2 linked regions of the Homo sapiens genome follow. The protein of the gene in region 1 interacts with the protein of each later gene in a pairwise test. Each region holds a gene or a part of one and is shown in the gene's direction. Other genes may lie near its edges. The genes, in order: NGB and BTBD2.

Region 1 (3,224 bases):
TTCTATTGCTATGTATCAAACAACCCTAGAACTATGACAATGCTTTCCGATTTCTCATGGCTGGGCTCAGCTGGGCAGCTCTTCTGCTCCACATGGTGTAGCTGGAGTTACTTGTGTGTTATGTTTAGCTGGGAGCTCAACTGAGGCTAGAATGTCCAAGGCCTGTCAGCCTTTGAGCTCTGTCCCTGTGATTTGTTGTCATTCACTAGTCTAGCTGAGCTTCTTTATAGAATAGCAGCTGAGTTCCAAGGGGGAGTTTTTAGAGGACAAGCCCCAGTGTGAAAGTGCCTATAAAGCCTCTGCTTGCATCACTTTTGCTAATGTCCCATTGGCCAAAGCCACTCACATGGATAAGCCCAGTGTCAATGTGGGAGGACCCTACTCAAGGGCATGAATCCTTGAGGTGTAGCCCACTGGGGGCGACTGATATGACAGTACACCACACAGTCCAGTCACCTTGCCAGATGGTGAGCACCTTGAGGAAGGAGCTGTGTTGGTCTTGTCCTCCTCTCCATCCCCAGCACCAGCATAGTGCCTGATCTACCAGGGCTACAGTGGATATTCAGTTAATATTTGTGAGATAAATAAACCTTATTTTATTATGAGTAATAATGGCAAATGAGAGCCATTATCTTTATTTATTTATTTACTTACTTATTTATTCTGGGGACAGAATCTTGCTCTGTCGCCTAGGCTGGAGTACAGTGATGTGATCACAGCTCACTGCAGCCTCAACCTCCCAGGCTCAAGTGATCCTCCCACCTCAGCCTCCCTCATAGCTGGGACTACAGGCATGCACCACCATGCCCAGCTAATTTTTGTATTTTTGGTAGAGATGGAGTTTTCCCATGTTTACCAGGCTGGTCTCAAACTCCTGGGCTCAAGTGGTCTGCCCACCTCAGCCTCCTAAAGTGCTGGGATTATAGGCGTGAGCTACTGCACCTGGCCTATTATCATTGTAGGTTTCCTGTATACAGATGCTGTGCTAAGAGCTTTTTCTGGATTATCCCATTTAATCATCCCAACAGGCCCAGGAGTTGGAGCTTCTACTTTCCCTGTATCACTGATGAAGCAGCTGAGGCTCAGAGAGGTTACATAACTTACCCAAGGTCACCCAGCTGATGAAGGGTGGAGTCAGAATCTGTACTCAGGTCTATCTGGCTCCAGAGCCCAGGCTCTTAACCCCATCATTGCTGCCTTGCAGATGAGGAAACTCAAGTCTGGGAGCAATGACTTGGTTTGGTCTAAGCTGGGAGGTCCCAGGCAATGTCTTGGCCCCACTCATGGGGTGGTTGCAAGACCAAGACAGGGGTGAAAAATGTGAGGATATAAAGCCTCACATTTAGAGGGAAAGGTAGACACAATGTGATACCCAAGGATTTGGGTAGGACCCTGCTCAGGAAGCATGGACTCAATGCAGGAGAGGAAAAAAGGCCCAGGAGCCCTAATCAGTCCTAGGCCTCAGTTTTCTCACCTGTGGAATGGAGCAGTGCCTTTCTGCCTTTGGAAGTGACAAGGTGCCCCTTGCCTCTGCAGACAGTGGGTGAGTCTCTGCTCTACATGCTGGAGAAGTGTCTGGGCCCTGCCTTCACACCAGCCACACGGGCTGCCTGGAGCCAACTCTACGGGGCCGTAGTGCAGGCCATGAGTCGAGGCTGGGATGGCGAGTAAGAGGCGACCCCGCCCGGCAGCCCCCATCCATCTGTGTCTGTCTGTTGGCCTGTATCTGTTGTAGCCCAGGCTCCCCAAGCTTCCCTGCATCTTGGTCCTTGTCCCCTTGGCCACACTGGAGAGGTGATGGGGCAGGGCTGGGTCTCAGTATCCTAGAGTCCAGCTGCAGAAGGAGTGGCTTTTCCTCCAGGAAGGGGCTTCTGGGTGTCCCCTCATCCCCAGTAGCCTCTTTCTTGCGTTTCTTTTTACCTTTTTTGGCACTCCCTCTGACCCCGCGATGAGTGTTTTGGTGGCAGAGGTGGGATGAGCTGGAAAGGTATGGAGGTGGGAGAGGATGGGGCTCTTCTGTCTGTCCTGCTTCTTCAGGTGAGTGCAGGCCAAGGCGGGGGTGAGATGGCTGAGCTTCCAGCGCCTTCTGTCCTGCCTGCCCAGTCCCTTCACTGCTTTCCTGCCCCAAGATGGCTTGCTTTTCACAAATAAAGAGAAAGAGCAGCTTTAGCCTTCTTGGTGGAATCCCAGGCAGTGGGAGCAGAATCAGAACTGCCAGGGAAGGGAAGGGGGACCTGGGTCTCAATGGGTCTCATTTGAGTCTCGCGGGCTGTGCAGATGCCCTGACAGAGTCGGTTTCCTTTGGCGGCATTCCCTTTCCCTCATTCAGCACTTCTGCTGGGAACTCCCTGACTATTCCGCTGCTGCAGGAACCCAGCTAGCTGGCCAGGTGGGGAGGGGCTGGGGACCGGCCAGGAAGGAGGGGTGACTTCATCCCAGAGAGACCCGAGTTCCCCCAGCCCTTCATCACCAACCCGCTCCTGCAGGAGTGAGTCTTACCTCCCCTGGCCCTCCTTTCTGGCTCAGCCTGCAGCGACTGTGAGGCCACAGCTCCTCAGATTCACTGCCCGCTGTGTGCCAGTACTCAGGCAGCTGGAGAGAAGAGAAGGCAGCAGCAGAGGCCCCCGCCCTCACCCCAGCCATCTGCACTTGTACCATTTGCTCTGTGCTGACTGTGGTCCTATAAATTCATGAGAAATAAACTGGTTCTGTGTGCCTCTCTGACCCTCGGGCCTGATCTTTTCTTGGGTCTTGGCCTGTGCCAGATGAAGCTGCAGGGCAGTGGATCTCAGGACAGGATGGGAGGATGGAGTCAGGGAGGCCAAGGCTGGAGTGGGTGGAACAGGAGGGAGGGGCCTGGGAGGAAGCTCTGGGAAGCCAGTGGCAGACATCTGTGGGGTCTGTGGCCCAAACTGGCTGGCAGACCACAAACCAGCTCTTCTTCCTCCTGGGCACACAGCTGGATGTCATGCAGCCACCCTTGCAATTAGGTGGGGCATGTGACTGGGCTCTGGCCGCTGGACCGTGCAGATGTGTGTGCCACTCCGAGGCCTGGTCCCCCAAAACTCCTGCATGCTCCTCCATGCTCTGTCATCCTTCTGCTGGTGTGATACAGACCTCACAGAGACCATGAGGGCCACGTGTTGAACATGGCAGAGCCACAGGTGAAAGGAGTCCTGACCCTGAATCGCTGCTTGGAGGAAGGTGCCTATTAATCAGAATCA
Region 2 (7,512 bases), on another chromosome or scaffold:
CCACCTGGGTGGTCTTTGTGCTCTTTGGGGAGGGGGTAGGTTGGATGCAGCTGGAACTCACCCAGCAGCAGGTGCAGCTGGAGAATCCCAGGCTTTCTGTTTGAGGGGGGAGGTGGGGCGCCCCGGGCACCGGCTGACCTTGGGACATGTATGCGATTGCACTTGAGGGACCGCTGGCTCGGTTGCAAAGTGGGGAAGATGGAGGCAGGACAAGGACCCCTTGGAGAAAAGTAGGTGAGGGGTCTGCCCCCGGGGGGCTCAGGAGAGGGCAATGAGGCCCAGCGGGAGATAGCAGCAAGGTAAGGTGGGCGGGCCTGGGACAGCGGACCCTCGACATGCGGGGTTAGGGGCGTGGACCCCCACTCAGCTCAAATCCAAGTACAACTTTTGACTCCCACGAACTTAACTAGGAATGGCTTCTCGCTGACCGGAGGCCTTGTGAGGACACTTGGTCAATGCACACCAGCCTCCTGTTCTCACAATAACAGGCTGGAGAACAGAAAATACATTCAGAAAAGTCTAAGGGGCCGGGTGCGGGGGCGCACGCCTGGAATCCCAGCACTTTGGGAGGCCGAGGCGGGCAGATCACGAGGTCGGGAGATCGAGACCAGCCTGGTCAACACGGTGAAACCCTGTCTCTACAAAAATACAAAAATTAGCCGGGCGTGGTGGCGCACACCTGTAATCCCAGCTACTCAGGAGGCTGAGGCAGGAGAATCTCGTGAACCCAGGAGGTGGAGGTTGCAGGGAACCGAGATTGCGCCATTGCACTCCAGCCCAGGCGACACAGTGACACACCATCTCAAAAAAAATAAAGGACAGGCTGGGCGCGGTGGCTCACGCCTGTAATCCCAGCACTTTGGGAGGCCGAGGCGGGCGAATCATGAGGTCAGGAGTTTGAGACCATCCTGGCCAACGTGGTGAAACACCGTCTCTACTAAAAATACAAAAAATTAGCCGGGTGTGGTGGTGCACAACTGTAGTCCCAGCTACTTGGGAGGCTGAGGCAGGAGAATCACTTGAACCCGGGAGGCGGAGGTTGCAGTGAGCCGAGGTTGCGCTACTGCACTCCAGCCTGGGCGACAGAGCAAGACTCTGTCTCAAAAAAAAAAGGAAAAAAAATAAAAGGAGAAATCCTGTTTGCTGTTCACACAGTGGAGGTGGCCACGATGAAGGCCTGTGTCCTTGTGTTCATATTGAGGGCTGAGGAGCAGGAGCAGGAGGGTGGGTCTGTCTCCGGGGTGGCAGAGGTGGAAGGGGAGGCAGGAGAGGCCGGCACCGTTGGGGCAGCCTTTATTGAAAAAATTCACATATGAGTGGACCTGTGCAGTTGAAGCCTGCCTTGTTGAAAGGTCATCTGTGTTTCCTTAGCATTTCAGGAGGGTTGAAAATGGAGAGGGGGCACTGACCTGGTCCAGAACGACCCCCTGAGCAAGTGATGTTGATGGAGAGTGCAGTGCCCCAGGCTCAGGGATGGAAGGCCCAGAGCCCAGAGGGGCTGGGCAGGTGGGAGCCATGGCAAGGCCGGAGCAGGAGGAGTGAGGGAGGCCCTGTGGCCCAGTGTGACCAGATCCGCATTGAGGGTGGAACGCGCCGTGGATGGGCCCAGGAGCGAGGCTGGGGAGTAGCAGCTGCAGACTCCAGGCAGGAGACAGCAGCGGGCTCGGTGGGGACGGCAGAAATGAGGGGTAGAGGATGCAGGTCCTCTTTGGAGGAAGCGAGTTCCTGTGGCCAGGAGAGGAGGCAGCTTGGCAGGTGAGGGCGTGGGGGGCTGTGGTGGGGGTCCCCAGACTTCTGGCTGGAGCATCACAAGCCAGGACAGGCTCAGGAGGGACAAGTACTGGCTTGGATGTGTTGGCGGGACCTGGGGCTGAGAGGTCCGCAGAGCAGTGTGTCCCAAGTGCTCTGTGCCTCAGTTTCCATGATTGAAACAAGGTCACTCAGACACATCTGTCCTGGGGCTGTGGGAACAAACGGACCCGATGGGTTGCTGACAGCCACAGGCCACACAGCAGAGAGAAAGAAAACAGCAGCTGAGGCCGGGCGCAGTGGCTCACGCCTATCATCCCAGCACTTCGGGAGGCCGAGATGGGCAGACATCTGAGGTCAGGGGTTTGAGACCAGCCTGGCCATCGTGGCAAAACCCCGTCTCTACTAAAAATACACAAATAAGCTGGGCGCGGTGGCACGCACCTGTAATCCCAGCTACTCAGAGTCTGAGGCAGGAGGATGGCTTGAATCCGGAAGGCAGAAATTGCAGTGAGCCAAGATTGCGCCACTGCACTCCAGCCTGGGTGACAGGGCGAGACTCCGTCTCAAAAAAAAAAAAAAGGTGGGGGGATGTCGGGACGAACTGGGGGTGCTGGGATAAAGTCTGGAGTTCACCGATGAGCAGAGAGGGGCCGGGCCTTGCCAGCTGTGAGGAGAGCAAGTGGCCTGGGCTTGGGCCTGGTCCCTGGCGGGGGTGCAGGGTGAGCTGAGACATGGCAGAGAGGAGGCTGGGAGCAGGCCTTGGTGGTGGCCCCAGTGTCTGGACCGTCGCGCAGGGGTCGGCGTTTGTGCTGGGGAGGAGGCCAGGGGTTGCACGCGGCTTCTGGGCTGTTCCCCGGTCCTGGATGGGCACCCGTCCATCTCAGCGCGCTGGAGCCTGGCACACAGTAGGCACGCAGTGATTGTGCATTGAATGATCTGTGGGAATTAAACATCTGATTCTCTCATGGGGCTTGAAGGGAGAACTGAAGATCTCCAGGGTTGCACTTTTGTAGATGTGCACATTGGCTGGTCCCATGAAGTTAGTATCTAAAATACCTTTTTCTTTTTTTTGAGACGGAGTCTCGCTCTGTTGCCCAGGCTGGAGTCCAGTGGCGCGATCTCCGCTCACTGCAAGCTCCGCCTCCCAGGTTCATGCCATTCTCCTGCCTCAGCCTCCCGAGTAGCTGGGACTACAGGCACCCGCCACCACACTTGGCTAATTGTATTTTTTAGTAGAGACGGGGTTTCACCATGTTAGCCGGGCTAGTCTCAAACTCCCGACCTCAGGTGATCCGCCCACCTCGGCCTCCCAAAGTGCTGGGATTACAGGCGTGAGCCACCGCACCTGGCCTCCCCTCCTTTTTTGTTTTTTTGAGACAGAATCTTGCTCTATTGCCCAGGCTGGGGTACAGTGGCGTGATCTCCGCATGCTGCAGCCTTCAGCTCCCTGGCTCAAGCAATTCTCCTGTCTCAGCCTTCTGAGTAGCTGGGATTACAGGTGTGCGCCACCACGCCCAGCTAATTTTTGTATTTTTAGTAGAGACAGTATTTCCGTCATGTTGCCCAGGGTGATGGTGAACTCCTGAGCTCAGGTGATCCACCCACCTCGGCCTCCCAAAGTGCTGGGATTCCAGGTGTGAGCCACCGCGCCCAGCCTAACGTATCTTTATTCACTCTATCATGGAACTGTCAGCATTGTAGCGAGGTCTAGAAGTAGAACAATCTGGGTGGGTGTGGTGGCTCACGCCTGTAATCCCAGCACTTTGGGAGGCCGAGTCAGGCGGATCACGAGGTCAGGAATTTGAGACCAGCCTGGACAACATGGTGAAACCCCGTCTCTACTAAAAATACAAAAAATTAGCCTGGTGTGGCGGTGGGCACCTGTAATCCCAGCTACTTGGGAGGCTGAGGCAGGAGAATTGCTTGAACCCGGGAGGCGGAGGTTGCAGTGAGCCAAGATCACGCCACCACACTCCAACCTGGGTGACAGACTGAGACTCCGCCTCAAAAAAGAAGAAAAAAGAAAAACCACAAAAATTAGCCGGGCGTGGTGGCGAGCGCCTGTAACCCCAGCTACTGGGGAGGCTGAGGCAGGATAATCGTTTGAACCTGGGAGGCGGAGGTTGCAGTGAGCCAGGATTGTGCCACTGCACTTCAGCCTGGGTGACAAAGCGAGACTCTGTCTTGGAAAAAAAAAAAAAAGAACAGTGTGTTCTGGGGTCTCACATTTCATTGACTGCTTTGTGAGTCCTTGTTCCCATAACACATTGTTTGATGATTGCTGCTTTGTGGTATGTTTTGAGAACTGCTCACCAAATTCTTCCCAACTTTATTCTTTGTGAAGACTTTTCAGGCTGAGTGCAGTGGCTCACATCTGTAATCCCAGCACTTTGGGAGGCTGAGGTGGGAGGATCACTTGACCCCAGGAGTTCGAGACCAGTCTGGCCAATATAGCGAGACCTCATTACTTGGACATGGTGGTGTGTGCCTGTGGTCCCTGCTACTCAGGAGGCTCGGGTAGGAGGATCACCTGAGCCTGGGAGGTTGCCGCTGCAGTGAGCCATGATCCTACCACTGCACTCCATCCTGGGCGATAGAGTGAGACTCTGTCCCTAAAAAAAAAAAAAAAAAAAGCTGGGCACAGTGGCTCACGCCTGTAATCCCAGCATTTTGGGAGGCCAAGGCGGGCAGATCACCTGAGGTCAGGAGTTCGAGATCAACTTGGCCAACATAGTGAAACTCTGTCTGTATTAAAAATACAAAAAGTACCCAGGCATGGTGGCTTGCACCTGCTGCTTGAGAGGCTGAGGCAGGAGAACCGCTTAAACCTGGGTGGCAGAGGTTGTGGTGATCTGAGATCGCACGACTGGGCTCCAGCTTGGGCAACACAGCGAGACTCCACCTAGAAAAAAAAAAAAAGAGTGGGCGCAGTGGCTCACCCCTGTAATCCCAGCACTTTGGGAGGCTGAGGCAGGCGGATCACCTGAGGTCAGGAGTTTGAGAGCAGCCTGGCAAACATAGTGAAACCTTGTCTCTACTAAAAATACAAAATTAGCCAGGCGTGGTGGCAGGTGCCTGTAATCCCAGCTACTCGGGAGGTTGAGGCAGGAGAATTGCTTGAACCTGGGAGGTGGAGGTTGCAGTGAGCTGAGATCGTGCTGCTGCACTCCAGCCTGGGCAAAAAGAGTAAAATTCTGTCTCAAAAAAAAAAAAAGACTTTCTCAGCTGGTCTGACACATTTATTACTCTTCTAGAATCAGTCACCCACATCCACCCATCTGTCCACCCTACAGATACTCACTGAAATACAGTCCTGGCTACAGGAGGTGCATATGACAGAAAAACATCTCCTTCCTTATGGAACTTATATTCTGTGTTTTGTTTTATTATTTTTTGAGACAGAGTCTCGCTCTGTTGCCCAGGCTGAAGTGCAGTGGCATGATCTTGGCTCGCTGCAAAGCTCTGCCTCCTGGGTTCCCGGCAGTTCTCTTGCCTCAGCCTCCCGAGTGGCTGGGATTACAGGTGTGCACCACCACACCCGGCTAATTTTTGTATTTTTAGAGACGGGGTTTCGCCATTTTGGCCGGGCTGGTCTCAAACTCCTGACCTCAGGCTATCCCCGGCCTCCCAAAGTACTGGGATTACAGGTGTGAGCTACCGTCCCTGGCCTAAGGCGGGAAGATCTTTTGAAGCCAAGAGTTTGGTACCAGTGTGGGCAACATAGTGAGACCTTGACTGTGTGTAAAACAAAACCAAAACAGATAAAAGACACAGGTGCCAGCAAATTCATGTGAAGGGTCAGATAGTAAATATTTTTGGCAGGCCATACTGTCTCAGTTGCAGCTACTTAATTCTGCCGTAGCAGCACAAAAAGCCATAAATCAACAACATGTAACTGAGCAAGAAGAGCTGTGTTCTAATAAAACTTTATTGGCCAGGTGCAGTGGATTACACCTGTAATCCTGGCACTTTCGGAGGCCGAGGCAGGAGTATCACCTCAGGTCAGGAGTTCAAGACCAGCCTGGCCAACATGGTGATACTCCGTCTCTACTAAAAATACAAAAAGTGGCTGGGCGCAGTGGCTCACGCCTGTAATCCCAGCACTTTGGGAGGCCGAGGCAGGTGGATCATGAGGTCAGGAGTTCAAGACCAGCCTGGCCAAGATGGTGAAACCCCATCTCTACTAAATATACAAAAATTAGCCGGGCGTGGTGGCGAGCGCCTGTAATCCCAGCTGCTTGGGAGGCTGAGGCAGGAGAATTGCTTGAACCTGGGCAGCAGAGGTTGCAGCGAGCCGAGATCGCGTCACTGCACTCCAGCCTGGGCGATAGAGTGAGACCGTCTCAAAAAAATAAAAAATAAAAAAATTAGCTGGGCATGGTGGTGAGCACCTGTAATCCCAGCTACGTAGGAGGCTGAGGCAGGAGAATCGCTTGAATCTGGGAGGAGGAGGTTGCAGTGAGCTGAGGTAGTGCCAGTGCAGGCCAGCCTGGTCAACAAGAGTGAAACTCCGTCTCAGAAAAAAAAAAAACTTAATTTACAAAAACAAGTGGTGGGCCAGATTCACTCTAAGGGCCATAGTTTGCCAGCCCTGGGCTAACGGTGCCTGATGATCTTGAGAATCAGTTTGTCAAGTGATAAAGGAATTTACTGAGGAGATTGGTCTTTCTAAGGACATAAAGTTGGGTGATTTTTCTTTTCTTTTTTTTTTTTTTTGAGACGGAGTCTCGCTCTGTCGCCCAGGCTGGAGTGCAGTGGCACAGTGTCAGCTCACTGCAAGCTCCGCTTCCTGGGTTCAAGTGATTCTCCTGCCTCAGCCTCCCGAGTAGCTGGCATGTTTACTTTTATCTGGTTTGAACTGTTTCTTCCTGAAGCCTTATTAGGTTTAACAGTTTTTCTGTGGTCTTGTGCTCTGCAGTAGAGTATCCTGTAGTAAGCGGGATGGTTTGGATGTGTGCTGTCCAATACTAGGCACTCATGTGCCAGTACGGACTACAGATGTGGACAGTGTGACCGAGGAGTTGAATGTTGAATTCAGCTGAATTTGGATATAGATTTAAATAGCCATGTGTGTCTAGTATTGACCCCTTGGACTCTTAGACTTTTTAAAAATTAAATTTTTTTTTTTTTTTTTAGAGACAGGGTCTCACTCTGTCACCCACACTGGAGTTCAGTGGCTCGATCATAGCTCACTGCAGCCTCCAGCTTCTGGGCTCAAACAGTCCTCCCACCTTAGCCTCCCAAGTAGCTGGGACTATAGACATGCACCACTATGCTCGGCTGATTTTTTTCTGTTTAGTAGAGATGGGGTCTGCTGTGTTGCTCAGGCTGGTCTTGAACTTGTGGGTTCAGGTGATCCTCCCAACTTGGCCTCCCAAAGCACTGGGATTACAGGTGTGAGCCACTGCTTTGGCTAAAAAATAATTTTTTTTTTTTTTTTTGAGACGGAGTTTTGCTCTTGTTCCCAGGCTGGAGCGCGATGGTGTGATCTTGGTTCACTGCAACCTCTGCCTCCCAGGTTCAAGCGATTCTCCTGTCTCAGCCTCCTTAGTAGCTGGGATTACAGGCTCCGGCCACTGCACCTGACTACGTTTTGTATTTTTAGGAGAGATGGCGTTTCATCCTATTGGTCAGGCTGGTCTCGAACTCCTGACCTCAGGTGATCCACCCGCCTCGGCCTCCCAAAGTGCTGGGATGACAGACATGAGCCACTGCGCCTGGCTAAAAAATAATTTTAAAAATTAGCCAGGCATGGTGGTG

Evidence for each region.
Region 2: the proteins of NGB (region 1) and BTBD2 interact in binary tests that used the Homo sapiens proteins (3 or more experiments, as listed by UniProt).

What each region holds. Positions count from the first base shown.
Region 1 is NC_000014.9:77,264,983-77,268,206, reverse strand, and holds the end of NGB (neuroglobin), read left to right. Parts: intron 1-1,536; coding exon 1,537-1,671; 3' UTR 1,672-2,724; downstream 2,725-3,224. UniProt on the Homo sapiens protein: Monomeric globin with a bis-histidyl six-coordinate heme-iron atom through which it can bind dioxygen, carbon monoxide and nitric oxide.
Region 2 is NC_000019.10:2,005,463-2,012,974, reverse strand, and holds part of BTBD2 (BTB/POZ domain-containing protein 2), read left to right. Parts: intron 1-7,512.